Regions from separate parts of the Homo sapiens genome. Here region 2 is linked to region 1. A link means that fine-mapping ties the variant in region 1 to the expression of a gene that starts in the linked region. Tissue or cell type: whole blood. Region 1 holds a variant in brackets; the other region holds the start of a gene. Each region is shown on its reference strand, or each on the opposite one. Region 1 has its middle 19 kb from the start of TRMT10C. Region 2 holds the start of ZNF256 (zinc finger protein 256).

Region 1 (9,004 bases):
TGTGATGTGGTGCTGAGAAGACTGTATCTTCTTTTGATTTGGGATGGAGAGTTCTGTAGATATCTATTAGGTCTGCTTGGTGCAGAGCTGAGTTCAATTCCTGGATATCCTTGTTAACTTTCTGTCTCGTTGATCTGTCTAATGTTGACAGTGGGGTGTTAAAGTCTCCCTTTATTATCATGTGGGAGTCTAAGTCTCTTTGTAGGTCTCTAAGGACTTGTTTTATGAATCTGGGTGTTCCTGTATTGGGAGCATATATATTTAGGATAGTTAGCTCCTCTTGTTGATTTGATCCCCTTACTATTATGTAATGGCCTTCTTTGTCTCTTGATCTTTGTTGGTTTAAAGTCTGTTTTATCAGAGACTAGGATTGTAACCCCTGCTTTTTTTTGTTTTCCATTTGTTTTGTAGATCTTCCTCCATCCCTTTATTTTGAGCCTCTGCAGGTGAGATGGGTCTCCTGTATACAGCACACTGATGGGTCTTGACTCTTTATCCAATTTGCCAGTGTATGTCTTTTAATTGGAGCATTTAGCCCATTTACATTTAAGGTTAATATTGTTATGTGTGAATTTGATCCTGTCATTATGATGTTAGCGGGTTATCTTGCCCGTTAGTTGATGCAGTTTCTTCCTATTCTCGATGGTCTTTACAATTTGGCATGTTTTTGCATTTGTTCCTGGCACCAGTTGTTCCTTTCCATGTTTAGTGCTTCCTTCAGGAGCTCTTTTAGGGCAGGCCTGGTGGTGACAAAATCTCTCAGCATTTGCTTGTCTGTAAAGGATTTTATTTCTCCTTCACTTATGAAGCTTAGTTTGGCTGGATATGAAATTCTGGGTTGAAAATTCTTTTCTTTAAGAGTGTTGAATATTGGCCTCCACTCTCTTCTGGCTTGTAGAGTTTCTGCTGAGAGATCCGCTGTTAGTCTGATGGGCTTCCCTTTGTGGGTAACCCGACCTTTCTCTCTGGGTGCCCTTAACATTTTTTCCTTCATTTCAACTTTAGTGAATCTGACAATTATGTGTCTTGGAGTTGCTCTTCTCGAGGAGTATCTTTGTGGTGTTTTCTGTATTTCCTGAATTTGAATGTTGGCCTGCCTTGCTAGGTTGGGGAAGTTCTCCTGGATAATATCCTGAAGAGTGTTTTCCGACTTGGCTTCATTTTCCCCGTCACTTTCAGGTACACCAATCAGATGTAGCTTTGGTCTTTTCACATAGTCCCATATTTCTTGGAGGCTTCGTTCATTTCTTTTTACTCTTTTTTCTCTAAACTTCTCTTCTAACTTCATTTCATTCATTTGATCTTCAATCACTGATACCCTTTCTTCCAGTTGATCGAATTGGCTACTGAAGCTTGTGCATGCATCTCGTAGTTCTCGTGCCATGGTTTTCATTTCCATCAGGTCATTTAAGGACTTCTCTACACTGGTTTTTCTAGTTAGCCGTTCATCTAATCTTTTTTCAAGGTTTTTAGCTTCTTTGTGATGGGTTCGAACATCTTCCTTTAGCTCGGAGAAGTTTGATCATCTGAAGCCTTCTTCTTCTCAACTCATCAAAGTCATTCTCCATCCAGCTTTGTTCCGTTGCTGGCAAGGAGCTGCATTCCTTTGGAGGAGAAGAGACATTCAGATTTTTAGAATTTTCAGCTTTTCTGCTCTGGTTTCTCCCCATCTTTGTGGTTTTATCTACCTTTGGTCTTTGATGATGGTGACGTACAGATGGGGTTTTGGTGTGGATGTCCTTTCTGTTTGTTAGTTTTCCTTCTAACAGTCAGGACCCTCAGCTGCAGGTGTGTTGGACTTTGCTGGAGGTCCACTCCAGACCCTGTTTGCCTGGGCATCAGCAGTGGAGGCTGCAGAACAGCAAATGTTGCTGCCTGATCATTCATCTGGAAGCTTCGTCTCAGAGGGCACCCGACTGTGTGAGGTGTTAGTCGGCCCCTAATGGGAGGTGCCTCCCAGTTAGGCTACTCGGGAGTCAGGGACCCACTTGAGGAGGCAGTCTGTCCATTCTCAGATCTCAAACTCCGTGCTGGGAGAACCACTACTCTCTTCAAAGCTGTCAGACAGGGACATTTAAGTCTGCAAAAGTTTCTGATGCCTTTTGTTCAGCTATGCCCTGCCCCCAGAGGTGGAGTCTACAGAGGCAGGCAGGCCTCCTTGAGCTGTGGTGGGCTCCACCGAGTTTGAGCTTCCTGGCCACTTTGTTTACCTACTCAAGCCTCAGCAATGGCGGGCGCCCCTCCCCCAGCCTCGCTACTGCCTTGCAGTTCAATCTCAGACTGCTGTGCTAGCAATGAGCGAGGCTCCATGGGCGTGGCACCCTCCAAGCCAGTTGTGGGATATAATCTCCTGGTGTGCCGTTTGCTAAGACCATTGGAAAAGCGCAGTATTGGGGTGGGAGTGACCCGATTTTCAAGGTGCTATCTGTCACCCCTTCCCTTGGCTAGGAAAGGGAATTCCCTGACCCCTTGCAATTCCCGGGTGAGGCGATGCCTCACCCTGCTTTGGCTCACACTCGGTGGGCTGCACCAACTGTCCTGCACCCACTGTCCAACAAGCCCCAGTGAGATGAACCCGGTACCTCAGTTGGAAATGCAGAAATCACCCATCTTCTGCATCGCTCATGCTGGGAGCTGTAGACTGGAGCTGTTCCTATTTGGCCATCTTGGAACTGCAAGCCTACATTCCTAAAATTGGATTTTACAAAGAAGTGCACAGATGGGCTCAGGAGAAGTTTTGGGAACTTGAGTAAAGTTAGTTCAAGGAAACAATCCTTGTCAGTTATATTGATGAAAAGAGTCAAATAGGCCAAGTGCAGTGGCTCACGCCTGTAATCCCAGCACTTTGGGTGGCCGAGGCGGGCAGACACTTGAAGTCAGGAGTTTGAGATCAGCCTGGCCAACATGGTGAAACCCCATCTCTACTAAAAATACAAAAATTAGCTGGGCGTGGTAGTGCACGCCTGTAATCCCAGCTACTAGGGAAGCTGAGGTAGGAGAATTGCTTGAACCCAGGAGATGGAGGTTGCAGTGAGCCGAGACCGTGCCACTGCACTCCAGCCTGGGTGAAAGAGCAAGACTCCATCTCGGAAAGAAAAAAAAAAAAGAAAAGAGTCAAATAAGTCTCAAATATTTGAAGATATTTATTCTGAGACAAATATAAGTGACTGGCCAGGCATGGTGTCTCATGCCTATAATCTCAGCACTTTAGAAGGCCTAGATGGGAGGATAGCTTGAGTGCAGGAGTTTGAGACCAGCCTGGGCAACATAGTCAGATATCATCTCTAAAAAAAAATAAGCAAAATTAGCTTGGCATGGTGGTGCATGCATGTAGTCCTAGTTACTCAGGTGGCTGAGCAGGGAGGATCACTTGAGCTCAAGAAGTTGAAGCTGCAGTGAGCCAAGATCACACCACTGCTCTCCAGCCTGGGTGACAGAGCAAGACCCTTTCTCAAAAACAAACAAACAAATACGAGTGACCGTTGGTCTGTGACACAGCCCTTGGGAGGTCCTGAGAACATGTGCCCTACAACTTGAGCTACAACTTGATTTTATACCTTTTAGGGAGACATAGGACATTAATCAATACATGTAAGATGTACATTGGTTTGGTCCAGAAAGGTGGGACAACTGGGAGTGGGGTTTGGGGGTGGGTATCTTCCAGGTCATACATTTTAGAAATTTAAAGATTTTCTGATTGGCAATTGGTTTAAAGAGTTATTATCTAAAGACCTGGAATCAATAGAAAGAAATGTCTGGGTTATGATAAGGGGTTGTAGAGACCAAGGTTTCATCATGCAGATAAGGCCTCCAGGTATCAGGCTTCAGAGAGAATAGATTATAGATGTTTCTTATCAGACTTGGAGTCTGTTCTATCAGTCTTAAGGTCTCTATGTTTATGTTAATGTTGGTCATGTGTGAGGCATGTCTAACACTTACCACCCTCCACTTCCCATCATGGCCTGAACTAGTTTTTCAGATTAATTTTGGAATGCCCTTGGCCAAGAGGAGGGTCCATCAGTCAGTTGGGGGCTTATAATTTTATTTTTGGTTTACATTAA[A/G]AAAGTTAGATCTGGCTAGGCACAGTGCCTCATGCCTGTAATCCCAGCACTTTGGGAGGCTGAGGCAGGCAGATCACCTGAGGTTGGAGTTTGAGACCAACCTGACCAACATGGAGAAACCCCATCTCAATTGAAAATACAAAATTAGCCAGGCATGGTGGCACAGGCCTGTAATCCCACCTACTCAGGAGGCTGAGGCAGGAGAATCACTTGAACCCGGGAGGCAGAGGTTGTGGGGTGAGCCAAGATCATGCCATTGCACTCCAGCCTGGGCAACAAGAGCAAAACTCCATCTCAAAAAAAAAAAAAAAAAAAAAAAGAGAAAGTTGAATCTACCTTACATGAAGTGTGAGTTATGATGGATATTATCAGCCCCATAGTTCCACCCCTGAGAAAAGCAACAAAAGGAGGTTGTTAGCTAAACCACTGTTTTGTTCACCCAAAGACTCAAACTGAAATATTTATCTTTTCCTCCTGTAGTAAAGGAAGTGGTGCATTTCATAAGACCAATCTTCCTGTTGTTTTACAATAATGTGTCAACCTTAAATAAAAAGATTTAGAAAGTATGATTACCTATAGAGTTTACTAGAGCTCAAAGATTGAGGATGGCCACCCAGGAGCATACATTCAAGTTGCCCTGAATATACACTTCAATTAGCAGTAGTAACAGTGGGTTTTTAAAGCAGAAAAGAAGAGTCAGTTCCTAAATTATTTAGCAAGTATTTACATTAAAATAAACTACTGATTGTCTATACATTTTTCTTTGTATCACAAATTCTAGGAACATGAAGATAATGGCTTAGGTAGCTAGTCAGGCATAAAATGCCTTTTAAATAATTGCCCCAGGCTGGGCATGGTGGCTCACACCTGTAATCCCAGCACTTTTGGAGGCTGAGGCCGGCGGATCATCTGAGATCAGGAGTTCGATACCAGCCTGGCCAACATGGTGAAACTCCATCTCTACTAAAAATACAAAATTTATCTGGGCATGGTGGTGTGGGCCTGTAATCCAAGCTACTCAGGAGGCGGAGGCACAACAATTGCTTGAACCCAGGAGGTGAAGGTTGCAGTGAGCAGAGGTTGCACAACTGCACTCCAGCCTGGGTGACAGAGTGAGACTCTAACTCAAAAAAAAAAAAAAAAAAGTAAAAGACTTAATTTTTTTTTCTGTGGAAATAAGGGAAGGCACAGCTCTGACCTCTCCTTTTTCTTTCAGAATTTAATCCTCTGTCCTTTTCAAATGTATGTTACATCTTTATAATGGCTAAATAAACCTCTTCTCAGTCTCACAATTTAGGACCTGGGAGTCATGTTTCAAAATGCGTATTCAAGGGAGACAGCTCTCATAGTTCTTCTGGGAGGGTAAGAACTGAATTTTGGTGGGCAGGGTGCCTTGGCCCAATCTTCAAAACTATATCCTTATGAAAAGATTTAGGGAGTTTGCTTCTTCTCACTTGGATAAAACCAATTAGCTAACACTGGTGGTCCTCCTAACAATTATGCTAAACTTAAGATGAACTATATGTGACAAAATATGCTGTCAAGTTTTCTTACTTGAAGCCTATTTTTGTTTTTCTTGAAAACATGCATGTAATGGGTTGCATCTGCTTGTCAGTATAAAGGGGTGAGATTCCTTGTGTCTTTTCAATCTCTTAATGAGTCGCCTATGATGTCTATCACATTGTGGTTTAATGCTCATTCAATAATGAAACTGTTTTCTATCTCTACTACCATTGTGGAGAGGATTTTGGGGTTGGGAGATTTTTTTTTTTAAGAGAGACAGGGTCTCACTATGTTGCCCAGGCTGGTCTTGAACTCCTGGGCTCTAGTGATCCTCCTGCCTTGGCCTCCCAAAATGCTGGGAAGATTTTGCTTTTAATTGTATTTTCCCAACAATAATATACCATTTCCTAAGTCCTGGAGCAATCAGGTAATAGAAGACACCACCTTCAGGCAGAGAGAGGAGGAAGCAGCCAAGGTATTACAGAGCAATGAATTTTGCAAAGCATTAAACCACAGTAAGTCCTCATTTAACTTCATAGATAGTGTCAACCTTAAAATAATGAGATTCAGAAAATATGATTAAATATAGTTTATCTGATCTCAAAGCTTAAGGATGGCTACCCAGGATCATAGATTCAAGTTGTACTAAATGTACACTCTGATTAGCAGCAGTTACAAGTGGCTTTTTAAAGCAAAAGGGAAGAGGCAGTTCATACATTTTTTACCAAGAATTTACATCAAAATAACATATGCTATTGATCGTCTATACATTGTTCTTTGTATCTCAAATTGCAGGAGCATGAAAATAATAAGTGAGGCACCTAGTCATGAGAACAAATGCTTTTAAACAATTACCCCTTGGCAGCTGGGCACGGTGGCTCACATCTGTAATCCTAGCACTTTGGGGGGCCAAGATGGGTGGATCACGAGGTCAGGGGTTCAAGACCAGTCTGACCAACATGGTGAAACCCTGTCTCTACTAAAAGTACAAAAATTACTGGGCGTGGTGGCAGGCGCCTGTAATCCCAGCTACTCAGGAGGCTGAGGCAGGAGAATTGCTTGAACCCAGGAGGCGGAGGTTGCAGTGATCTGAGATCACACCACTGCACTCCAGCCTGGGCGACAGAGCAAGACTCGGTCACAAAAAAAAAAAACAAAAAAAAAAAACACCCCTGGGCCTGGGTTGGGGAGCAATGAGAATGGGGGTATATGTGACCAAAGTCCCATACTCATGTTTCTCTGGGCTTAAAAATTTTGCAAACCTCACATAACTGAGACTGCTCTGAGCTATTTTTCTTTCCTCAATAGGTTATTGAAGCTGTGACTTTAAGCTAAATAATGCATAATAAAACCAAATTTACCTTAGGCTAATTGATATAAACAAGAGTTAAGTTCCTAAGGCATATTTCCAGTAACGAAAACATTACAAAACTTCTAAATAAAGAGAAAAAACACATCTAATATTAAACACTGAAATAAATGTGAGCTATACATACATTTTTAAAGGATTAATAAAAACAAGATAATTGCCCAACTTTTGGTGAATCAGTAAGTGATGAAGGTCACAAGCGTGTTGGGTTAAATCAAGAAATAAACGTTTGCAAAGCAAAAACTGTTAAGTTTTTGGAAAGGGGTTACTGGAAAGGGGTCCCAAACCAGACCCCAAGAGAGGGTTATTGGATCTCATGCAAGAAAGAATTTGAAGCGAATCCAGAAACTGAGAGCAAGTTTATTAGAGAAGTAAAGAAACAAAATAATGGCTACTGCATAGGCAGAGCAGCAGCTTGGAATGCTCAACTGATAATACTTATAGTTATTTCTTTATTATATGCTAAACATAGGGTGGATTATTCATGAGTTTTCCAGGAAAGGACAATTCCCAGAACTGAGCGTTTCTCACCTTTTTAGACCATATAGGGTAACTTCCCAACATTGCTATGGCATTTGTAGACTGTCATGGTGCTGATGCGAGTGTCTTTTAGCATCCTAATGCATTGTAATTAGCATATAATGAACAGTGAGAATTATCAGAGGTCAATTTGGTCACCATCTTGGTTTTGGTCGGCTTCTTTATCACATGCTGTTTTACCAGCAATGTCTTTGTGACCTGTATCTTGTGCCAACCTCCTATCTCATCCTGTGACTAAGAATGCCTAACCTCCTGGGAATGCAGTCCAGTAGGTCTCAGCCTTATTTTACCCAGTCCCTACAGAAGATGGAGTTGCAGGCCAGGCATGGTGGCTCACGCCTGTAATCCCAGCACTTTGGGAGGCTGAGGCAGGTGGATCACCTGAGGTCAGGAGTTTGAGACCAGCCTGACCAACATGGAGAAACCCCGTCTCTACTAAAAATACAAAAAAAATTAGCCAGGCATGGTGGCCTATGCTTGTAATCCCAGGTACTCTGGAGGCTGAGGCAGGAGAATCTCTTGAACCCAGGAGGCAGAGGTTGCGGTGAGCTGACATCGAGCCATTGCACTCCAGCCTGGGCAACAAAAGCAAAACTCTGTCTTAAAAAAAAAAAAAAAAAGATGGAGTTGCTTTAGTTCAAATGCCTCTGACATAAACAGCACTTCCTCCCACCATGCAGTTCAATAACAATCACAAACATGGCAGGCTCATTGAGCGCTTTCATACCACATTGTTTATGGTCATACATTTTGTATGATCACTGTATAATTTACAAATTTTATTTTACAATAATCTGTATTAACTCTTTCATTCATTTTCCAATCTATTTATTCCACCAGTTCAGGGTCAGGTATAGCCAGAGTCTATCCAGCAGCTCAGGGCATAATGCAGAAACCAGACCTGAACAGAACATCATCCTACTGCACAGTGCCCTCACACACACCTGAATTAACTCTGATTGGTACAATGTACACATGCCAATTAACCTAATGTGCACATCTTTGGATTGTGAAAGGAAACTGGAGTACTAAGAGAAAACCCACACCCATATTATTTGAGTACCTGCTGTACAGCACAATTCTTTTGTTTGGCCTCTGACTGTCGTTGTCCAAAGACTTTCATTTCATTAAAGTTTTAAAAAGCAAAAAAGGCCTGGCCTTCAACAACCTTTGCAAAATTATGATAGTAAAAGAAGTCTGACATGGCTGACTCCATCTTGCTTCTAAACTCTAAGCTGTCTATGCTTATTCCTCAGTGTAGCCTAAGCTAACAATGGGAGGAATTTATATTTTAACTTAAAAGCAAGGACAATAATAGTTCCTCTCTAAAACTAACCTCCTCCTTGTTCACAGATTGAAAACCACATTTATAAGATTGATGAAAGGCCACAAGATTAGGATTATGGGAGGGGCCTGAATTCTAGTATAGTTTCTATAATCCCTTGTTCCTCAGGAGTCATGTGGCCACAGGATTTATGACTTTCCCAATTGCTCCTATAGATAACATCACTAAGATTTGTCTTTTGAGATT
Region 2 (9,004 bases), not on the chromosome of region 1:
CACTGCAGATAAGGCAGTGAGAAAAATGGGTGAAACATGGAGTCCAGAGATGTGGGGATTAACCCCAGGCTGGAAGTAAGAGACGTAGTAACCAGGTGGACAGCTGACAAGCAAGCTAAGTATCAAGAATGGGAAAGAAAAGGCAGTAATGAGGTTTGGCCCCAAATGTCATTAGCACCAAAATATTAGTCAAACAGGATATGTTTCTGGTATGATGTGAACATAACCCTTATAGAATGTCCTCCTTTAGGTGTTAGTCCCTAGGGCCAGGCTCCCTCTGAGTCCATCTTGCTGTGGGGAATCACAGCCATCCTCAGAACCACAGGGCCTGTCCATCTGACCCCTACAATCAAGAACACGGAACTTGGAATATGCAAGCACCCAAGACCAGCCCAGAATGACTCTGCACATGATAGCCTACAGGAAAAAAAATAATAATACAAGGAGAAATTCAGAGGAGGATTTTGCAAGAGCCACTCGTAGTCCACATAAGTGGTGACAATGTCAGTGATGATAATTGCTGGCAGAGGCAGGCATGAGGAAGTGTCCCCTAGAGGAAGGAAGTAGAACCTGGGCCTTGAGGAGCCTCGAATCTGGACAATGTCACCTGGCCAGGAGAGGCAAACGAGGTGAGATCCATGAGGCCGACTATAAGAAGCCTAACTCTGAATCTTTCCACATGAAAGGGAAGCAGGTGTTGCTTGCTCAAGGAGAAAAGCAGGCAACATACAACCTTAGCCCTACCAACCGCAGCACCTGCCCAGGAACAGGAAGCTGTGTCAATAGTCCTCTTGTGAAGACACATCTGACTCTGGGGAAAGGGTAAGAGCAAAGGCTAGCTCGGGGCATAGAGGTGGGTGTGAGGACCTTACCCAGGGAGGTTGTAAGTGTCAAGTTCTCCAGCATCACATCGTGGTACAGGCATTTCTGAGCCTCATCAAGAAGACCCCACTCCTTCCAGGAGAAGTAAACAGCCACGTCCTCAAAGGTCACAATGCCCTGCCAGGATGGGGACACATGAAACCACAAACGGTTCCTCCTCTCAGGATCCATAATCCTTCCCCTCACACATTTACCCCATGCTCATCCTCTTTCCAAGCTCTCCAAGCTCCCCAGCTCAGAGGAGAAAGCAGTCAGCTGGTGCTGTTGTCTCCTAATGGGGCTCTTGGTCACTGGTTGCAGCCATCAGTAACAAGAGGCAGGTGAACAAATACATGTATCTAAGCTGTGGGCGTGGCATAAGGGCAACCACTCCTTCCTGACAAGCATTCCTCTCATATGACCAAGGTCATGTAAGTCTCAATCAGGACACTGGGGCCATCAGGCACACTCCCTCTCCAAGTGCATATCATTCATTACACTGCACATACCTCAGGTCTCCAGATCCCACTGCCACATGACCATGACCACCACTACGTCCTATACCACAGGCAAATCCTGGCTTCCCCACATGCTACCTGAGTGAAAGAGTAGATAACCTGGGCCGGGTGCAGTGGCTCATGCCTGTAATCCCAGCACTTTGGGAGGCCGAGGTGGGCGGATCACGAGGTCAAGAGATGGAGACCATCCTGGCTAACAGGGTGAAACCCCATCTCTACTAAAAATACAAAAGATCAGCCAGGCGTGGTGGCACACGGCTGTAGTACCAGCTACTCAGGAGGCTGAGGCAGGAGAATCACTAGAACCCAGGAGGTGGAGAGGTGGAGGTTGCAATGAGCCGAGATCACGCCACTGCACTCCAGCGTGGTGACACAGCGAGACTGCGTCTCAAAGAACAAAAAAAAAGAGTGGATAACCAACAGCCAAATATAAGACACGTGACATTGGACAAATGAGATCAACAGTTTATTAATTTTTTTTTTTTTTTTGAGACGAAATCTTGCTCTGTCGCCCAGGCTGGAGTGCAGTGGGGCAAGCTCCACCTCCTGGGTTCATGCCATTCTCCTACCTTAGCCTCCCAAGTAGCTGGGACTACAGGCACCCGCCATCACGCCTGGCTAATTTTTTATATTTTTAGTAGAGAAGGGGTTTCACCGTGTTAGCCAGGATGGTCTTGATCTCCTGACCTTGTGAGCTGCCCGCCTCGGCCTCCCAAAGTGCTGGGATTACAGGCGTGAGCCACCACGCCTGGCTGAACAGCTTATTAATTAAAGACAAATACTCATAGCCTGTGAAAGAATACCACACTCCACACAGGGCCATACGGAGGTAGTACTCCAGAAAAGAGTAACAACCAGGTGCTGTAGAATGTAAGTTTTGTAGCATCAAGATGGAGAAGCTCCACTGGTCCCCAGAGGAGGGGACTGGCTTGTTTGAATAACTCAAAAAATTGATAGGGAACTGAAACCCACTACAAAGTAATAAGCAGGAACTGTTCTGGTTCCCTGGATAAGAATGGATAAGAAGGGTTCATTTGGCTAAGAGAGCTTATTCATGGGAGCAAAGTGGGAAGGGGAATTTGTTCTCAGGCCATCTAAGGCTGTATCGTTTTCATCAGATGTCAAGGCGACATATCATACTGGGCCTTAATTTCCGGCCTTATACCGCAACTTGGCAGGCAGCATCCAGAGTGTGGATATAAACAGGATCCAAAATCCCAGACTTCCCACAGCTTACACTAGTGGAAGCAGCCTCAAAAATTTCTTTGAAGGCCTCCCTGCCAGGCTGTATTCCTTGCCTCAGACATAGCCACACAGAACCACAGGTGAATCACAGATAACCATGGCCCTATTCCACTTCTGTGCTGCACTTACCATCCCCTTGAGAGTCATATATCCACCTAAAGCTCATTTAAATCCCAGCCTCACTGGTCGTTCATCTCACACACAATGACTCTCACAAATGACCACATGACACTAACTTAATCTTCCAGCCTGAATGAAACACCCAGGCCCCATCAAGTTATCACAAAATCCTGGATACCCATAAAGTGGTGAATAAGCACGAGTTTTGGCCTGAGTGTCCTATGCGTTTGCATCCATCTCATGTCCATTCTTCTCTTGGGAGCCGTGGCCACTGCCAAACTACACTGTCTTTTACATACCTTGCCTTCATGACCACTTACTCTATCATCATCCTCCCAGTCTTGGCCCACTAACAGCTTTACAACCAAAACCTGGAGCTTGCCCCGCCTAACTGTGACCCACAGCTCACTAACCTTGGTGCGCACAACAGCCACATCTTGAATATCTGCACCCTGAACCACTCCCTAGATTTCAAGACCGGCACGTTCATCTGCCCACTTAACGCCTCCATTTAGTAGGCTCTGAAAGATCTGACTCTTAGCATGGCATAAACAAACCTGATATCCCTAGTGAATATTACTCCTATTGCCAATTTGTTCATCTTAGTTGATGAAACTTCTTTCCCTACAGCTGCTAATACCAAAAACCCTGGAGTCTTCTCTGAACCCTCTGTTTCACTCCCTCACCACCTACATTATGTAATTTAGTTGTCCCTTTTGAAACCACACATCCGGAATCTAACCACATCTCCTAAATCACGATCCTGGGCCAGTAACCCTCACTTGGACTAGTCTACCCTGATTTTCCTTCCTCCTCCCTCAACCCCCCAGTTTGTGCCCCACTGTGCACACAGATGAAGCCTGTGAAGACCTTGGTAAATTACCTCTTTTTTCTGATTCAAACTTGCTATTACCTCCTGAAAACACACTCAACTTCTCAGGCAGCCACTGCAGTCCTGACGCCTATCCTCCTGTTCTTTGCTTCCCACCAGAAAGCAAGGAGACTTGTGGCTTCATAAATGCACCCAGCTCCGTACTGCACCTAAGCATTTGCACATCTTGTACCTTTCTGGAAAAACTTTCCACACCCGTTCACATGGCTGCCAGAAATTGGAACAACTCTATATACCGGCTAACATGGACATAGGACCCTGGGCTTGGGGTTCACCCAAGGTCTTCAGAACTAAGGGCTGGGGGAATGGCACTCCACAACCCAGAGAACCTGTGGGTGGGAGTTAGGGCTAGTGAGAGACTGGGAAACCCTCCCCTTCCTGGCGTAGATTTCATAACCCTTTACAGCCAAGGGAAACGTAGAAAGAGCCAGGCCTCAGAGAAGAGCATCTATGGCGGTATTAGATGGGCTCAAGCCACCCCGTAGCCCCATGCCTGGCCTTGGAGCCGGGTGCCCTCGCAATGGCTGTGTCACCTCTGTGCCCCAGGGCTCAGTGGCGCCTCTCATCAGGGGCTCCTTGCCAGTCGCGCCCTCCCTTCCCTAGCACACCAGGTGTTGGAAACGGGAGCCCCTCCGGCGAGCCCCCGTGTCCTGTCCTGGGCAGCAGGGCCGCGAGCAAGCGCCCTCGGGGGTGCTAGGACTAGCGTGGGGAGGGCGGGGAAGGCCCAGAGGACGCGGCACATACCTGGGCCGGGGCCGTCAGCTCGGCCGCCGCCATCTGACTCTGTGAGCGGAGCGGGGCCAGAGAGGATGTCCTTATTCCGGGCCGGGCCTGGGTACCCTGGGCGCCGCCGAGCCTCAGCCACGCCTCTGTGCAGCGGGGAAGACTCCTCTCGCGCCTTCTCAGTCAGTCACGGATGATGCTGACCCAGCGCTCCGGGGCTTTCTACCAAGTAATCAGTCCAGACAAATGCCAAAACGACCGCCACAAGGAGGACAACGGAAGTCCCGCCGCGACCGCGCGTGCGCTTACGGAAACACCACCTTTCGGAGGCCTCATTGGCTGAAGGTCGCCGTCGCCCAACGCAGGCCATTCTGGGTAATGTTCCCACAGGCGCACGGCGGGAGAGTGAGGGTCGCCTCCACCTCCTTCCGGAAGTAAAGGCCAAACCCCTGTAGGGGGCGCTGGGAAATGGACACTCCAGGTTGGGGCGGAGGCGAGGCTTCGTTCTTTCTTAAAGGAGACGTACCCAGGTTTCTACCGATTGCTGTCTGCCAGTGTTTGTTTGGAGACGTGTCATTTCATGTGTTCCCAGAGGCACATATCCAGATGCACATATTATTACATACAGTCAGTCAGTCACAAAATATATCCACTGGTTGAGAAAGCAAATAAATATGACTATGTTGCGGCCGGGCGCGGTGGCTCACGCCTGTAATTCCAGCACTTTGGGAGGTCGAGGCGGGCGGATCACGAGGTCAGGAGATCGAGACCATCCTGGCTAACTCAGCGAAACCCCGTCTCTAAAATACAAAAAATACCACAAAAAAAAAAAAAAAAAGAAAAATTAGCTGGGTGTGGTGGCGGGCGCCTGTAGTCCCCAGCTACTCCGGAGGCTGAGGCAGGAAAATAGCTTGAACCCGGGAGGCAGAGCTTGCAGTGAGCCGAGATCGCGCCACTGCACTCCAGCCTGGGGGAAAGAGCGAGCCACTGTCTCAAAAAAAAAAAAAAAAAAAAAAAAAAAAAAAGACTATGTTGCAATTCAAACGCATGCACTCAAGCACTGGAGTCAGTTTTCTCAGTCTCTGTATGTTTGATTAGGGACAAGAAAAAAAACACTCCACACAGGTTCATGACAAAGAGGATGAAGGTGGGATGCGGAGGCACCCTGCAGCAGCAGGACATAAGTAGATCCCTGTCTCTGGGTCCCTCTCGTGCCTGTGTAGTCAAACATTGTGTCCAATTCACTAAGCAACACTTGCATGAATCTAATCTCACTTTCTCCATGCCTTTATATTCACTTCTTTTTAATAATTTGACATCAAGCTCAGAAAGAGAACAACAAAAGGAATGGTATTTTGAAAAGGCATGATGGCTAGCTAGAGCATTAACAGGTGGAACAAAGGGTGCTCTGAATCCCAAATGTAGGGTGTATCTTAAATTCAAGATCTCTTCTCAACGCTGAAATGATTATCTTTGCCCCCATTAGTTACGCTCTTGTTGCCCAGGCTGGAGTGCAATGGTGCGATCTCGGCTCACCACAACCTCTGTCTCCCGGGTTCAAGCGATTCTCCTGCCTCAGCTTCCCAAGTAGCTGGAATTACAGGCGCCCGCCACCGTACCCGGCTAATCTTTTTTTTTTTTTTTTTTTTTTGTATTTGTATTTTTAGTAGAGACGGAGTTTCGCCATATTGGCCAGGCTGGTCTCGAACTCCTGACCTCAGGTGATCCACCCACCTCGGCCTCCCAAAGTGCTGGGATTACAGGCGTGAGCCACTGTGCCCGGCCCTTTGCCCCCATTATTATAGGGCTGTTCTGCATAAAAAATTGATACGATATCAGAAAAAGAATTGTAAAATACAAATTACAGAAAGCTACTAATAATGGGTGTCGCTTCGCCAGCCAGAAACCTCTGTGGTCGCGCCTCTGCTTGAGTTTTGCTCACACCCGCTGGGCTTGTTCCACCCACTCGGCCCAGCAGGCTGCACCTGGATCCCACACCTACCAAGGGCGAGCCAGGCGCGGAGCCGCAAGGGGTGTGTGAGCGAGCAAGTGAAGGGTCCAGCCAGTGCACACAGCCAGGCACGCTGGCTGCTGCGGCGGGGCGGGCAGCTCCAGGCGCTGGCACAGGCGCCGGCTCCTTGCAAGTCTGCGACTGGACCAGACATACTGCAGGCGGCTTCTGCTGCAGGCACCAGCATCTAGACGAGGGAAAAATGGTGGCGCCGGAAAGCTCGGAGACACCAAGAACAGCAGAACCCCAAAGAGGGTGTTGCAGCATGTCACAGCCCTGGCTCCGGAGTCTCGAGGCCTGGGCTCCCGGAAGAGCCACAGCTCTTCTCTCCTTCCCGTTGCTTGCAGCCTGGCAAGCGGGGAGGTGTGTTTTGGGTGGGGTGTGTTTTCAGCTTGTTTGTGATATAGCTCTTTCAGTCCCGCTGCCCTGCTCTGGCTCGCTGCTGCTTCCCATCGTGGGGGGCGGCCACCCAGTGCTGGCTGAGGGCAGGAGGGCTATAGTGTTACAGCTCTGGCTCGGGGAATCCCAAAGTCTGGGCCTCCAGAAGAGTCGCCATTTTTCACTCATGCAGCCCAGAAGCATGGCTACTCAGCCAGGAATGTGTTACAGCCCCTTTCTCTCCTGCTGTTCGTTAGGTCCCAAGTTCTTGTCCCCCAAGTTCTTATCCCACGTCCAGGAAGAATGAGGTTATGCAGACAACTGGAGGGTGAGCAAGGCAGAGAAGGGTTTTATTGGACAACCCAACAGCCCTCAGGAAACCTGAAGGGAGTAGCTCACACCTGCATACAGATAGTCTCCGATGTCTGAGTCTGGCTGAGTCTACAGGTTTTTTATGGGCTCAGAATGGAGAAAGTGTGTGCTCATTGGTCCATGGGTGGTAGGAAGTGCATGCTGATTGGCCCATGGGCAGTCATGGGCGGGCCTGGGAAAAACACCATACCATTGGCCGAAAGGCGTCAAGGAATTTCTCTCTCTGGGTCACAGACTCCACCTGGAACTGGCAGCGTGGCCTCCAGGCTTCAGGCCATTCGTGGCTTGAAGGTGGGGTTTCACAGAAAACCCACCCCTTCCCACGTAGGAACCTGTCTGCCTTTCATGGCCATCAACATGCTGTCCATGACGCCCAGGCTGTCCATGCTGAAGGTTGCCCGCAGGCCTGCCCCGAGCCACTCTCAGCCGCCCCCCTCCCACCACCCGGCCTCCTTCCCATGCTTCTTGGTGCCCAAAGTTTCAGCCTCAAAAGCAGTTTCTGGAGGAAATCGAGATGGTGGGGGGCTGGCATGTCGTCACTGCCCCGAGGGCACACACATTTGGCTGGGTTGTGATAGCGCCCAGGTTTGGCTATCTTGACATGTCCACAACTTTGCTCTGCCGTGGAGCAGGTGCTGAGAGTGGGGAGAGGCCAGGGAGTGGGAGCAGGCACTTCTGGGCCTGTGGGAAAAGGGTGCTTCCCAGGTCCCCAAGAGTGCAGGGATGCCCTGTCTGGAGCCACGACTAGGTGGCTGCAGCTGCGCCTGGGAGCACAGGGCTCCCGTCCTGACAACTCGGTATGGCTCGAGGCTCCCACTGGGATCACCTGTTCCCAGTCCCCGTGGGCTCCACGGAGCATGCAGCCCTGGCCGTGCCTCCCCATTTGCAGCCGGCATCATCACAGCGGCCCCTCCAGATCAGCCACTGCTGCCATTATAATGACTATGTAGTCATTCAAAAATGGTGGCAGAATCGTGTTTGGGAAATATCGGATGGTGAAAAAAGTGAAGGTCTCACAGAACTCTTTTGTTTTGGTTTTTGTTTGTTTTTTGAGACGGAGTTTCGCTCAAAACGGAGTTTTTGAGTCCAAGGATGTGAACTTGGACTGGGAGGTGTGCAGGAGGGGTGCTGAGTACTAGGTCTGCGTGTCTTGTTCTGGTGGCTGTCTCAAGCCATGGTCCACCTGGAGTGTGGGCTAGCTGCATCTCAGTAATGGCCTGGTGGTTGACTAACTGCCTTGAAGTAATCTCTGGAATTTTGCAGATAGGTCCCTATGCCTACCAAGTCTGTCTCAAGATTATCCCCAGGAACTTCTAAGTAAGCACATAATTAGATACTAGCATACAATTAGACAAATGTGCATGGTCTAAGGGAGTGTATGGTGAGAAGCGGTGGACATGGTATTTCAAAGAAAGTACATTTCAAGGCTGTATTTTAAGACTAATGAGAAGAAAAGATTCTGCAGTAAGGTTCAAGGTTATATCACAAGACTAGGGAAAAATGAGAAAAAGGAAAAAAACTTTTTCAGGCCAGGCTGTTCAGTTACAAAACTAGTTTTAGAGTTGCAGTGTGTCCTGTCAGCAGCCATTAAATAAAACTTGTTTCAAGTTACAGCAGGGAGTTTCAGCAGCCAGGCTTCTGGAGAATTACATTTTTGGATCAGGGTTATATGCCCTGAGTGCTTTTTTTCCCACAGCTCTTTCAACTCTGTTTTAGGTGGGTATGACAAGAATGACCCAATTCATATGATCAACTTTCACACAATTAATAGGGATCCCTTCTAAATTTGCTAAATCTGCAGGATTTTTGAGTTTCGACTGGGGGGAAAACCCACCAAATCTCAAATCAATACATGTTTATTTTCCTAATACAAAACAAAATGTT

What was found. PIP is the estimated chance that this variant, and not a neighbour inherited with it, causes the effect.
Region 2: it holds the start of ZNF256, and the variant in region 1 is the best candidate, but not a certain one, in a credible set for the expression of ZNF256 in whole blood (TOPMed, PIP 0.66).

What each region holds. Positions count from the first base shown.
Region 1 is chr3:101,538,654-101,547,657 of GRCh38, forward strand. No RefSeq gene overlaps it. Among named protein-coding and RNA genes, the nearest start is that of TRMT10C, 19 kb to the right of the region's middle. The variant A/G (reference allele first, on the strand shown) is at 4,062.
Region 2 is chr19:57,943,062-57,952,065 of GRCh38, forward strand. It overlaps ZNF256 (zinc finger protein 256), which reads right to left and starts at 4,645. Exons shown (of 3, transcript NM_005773.3): 1 at 4,381-4,645; 2 at 873-999. The coding sequence starts at 4,413. RefSeq lists enhancers at 4,054-4,133, 4,624-4,723, 4,794-4,883.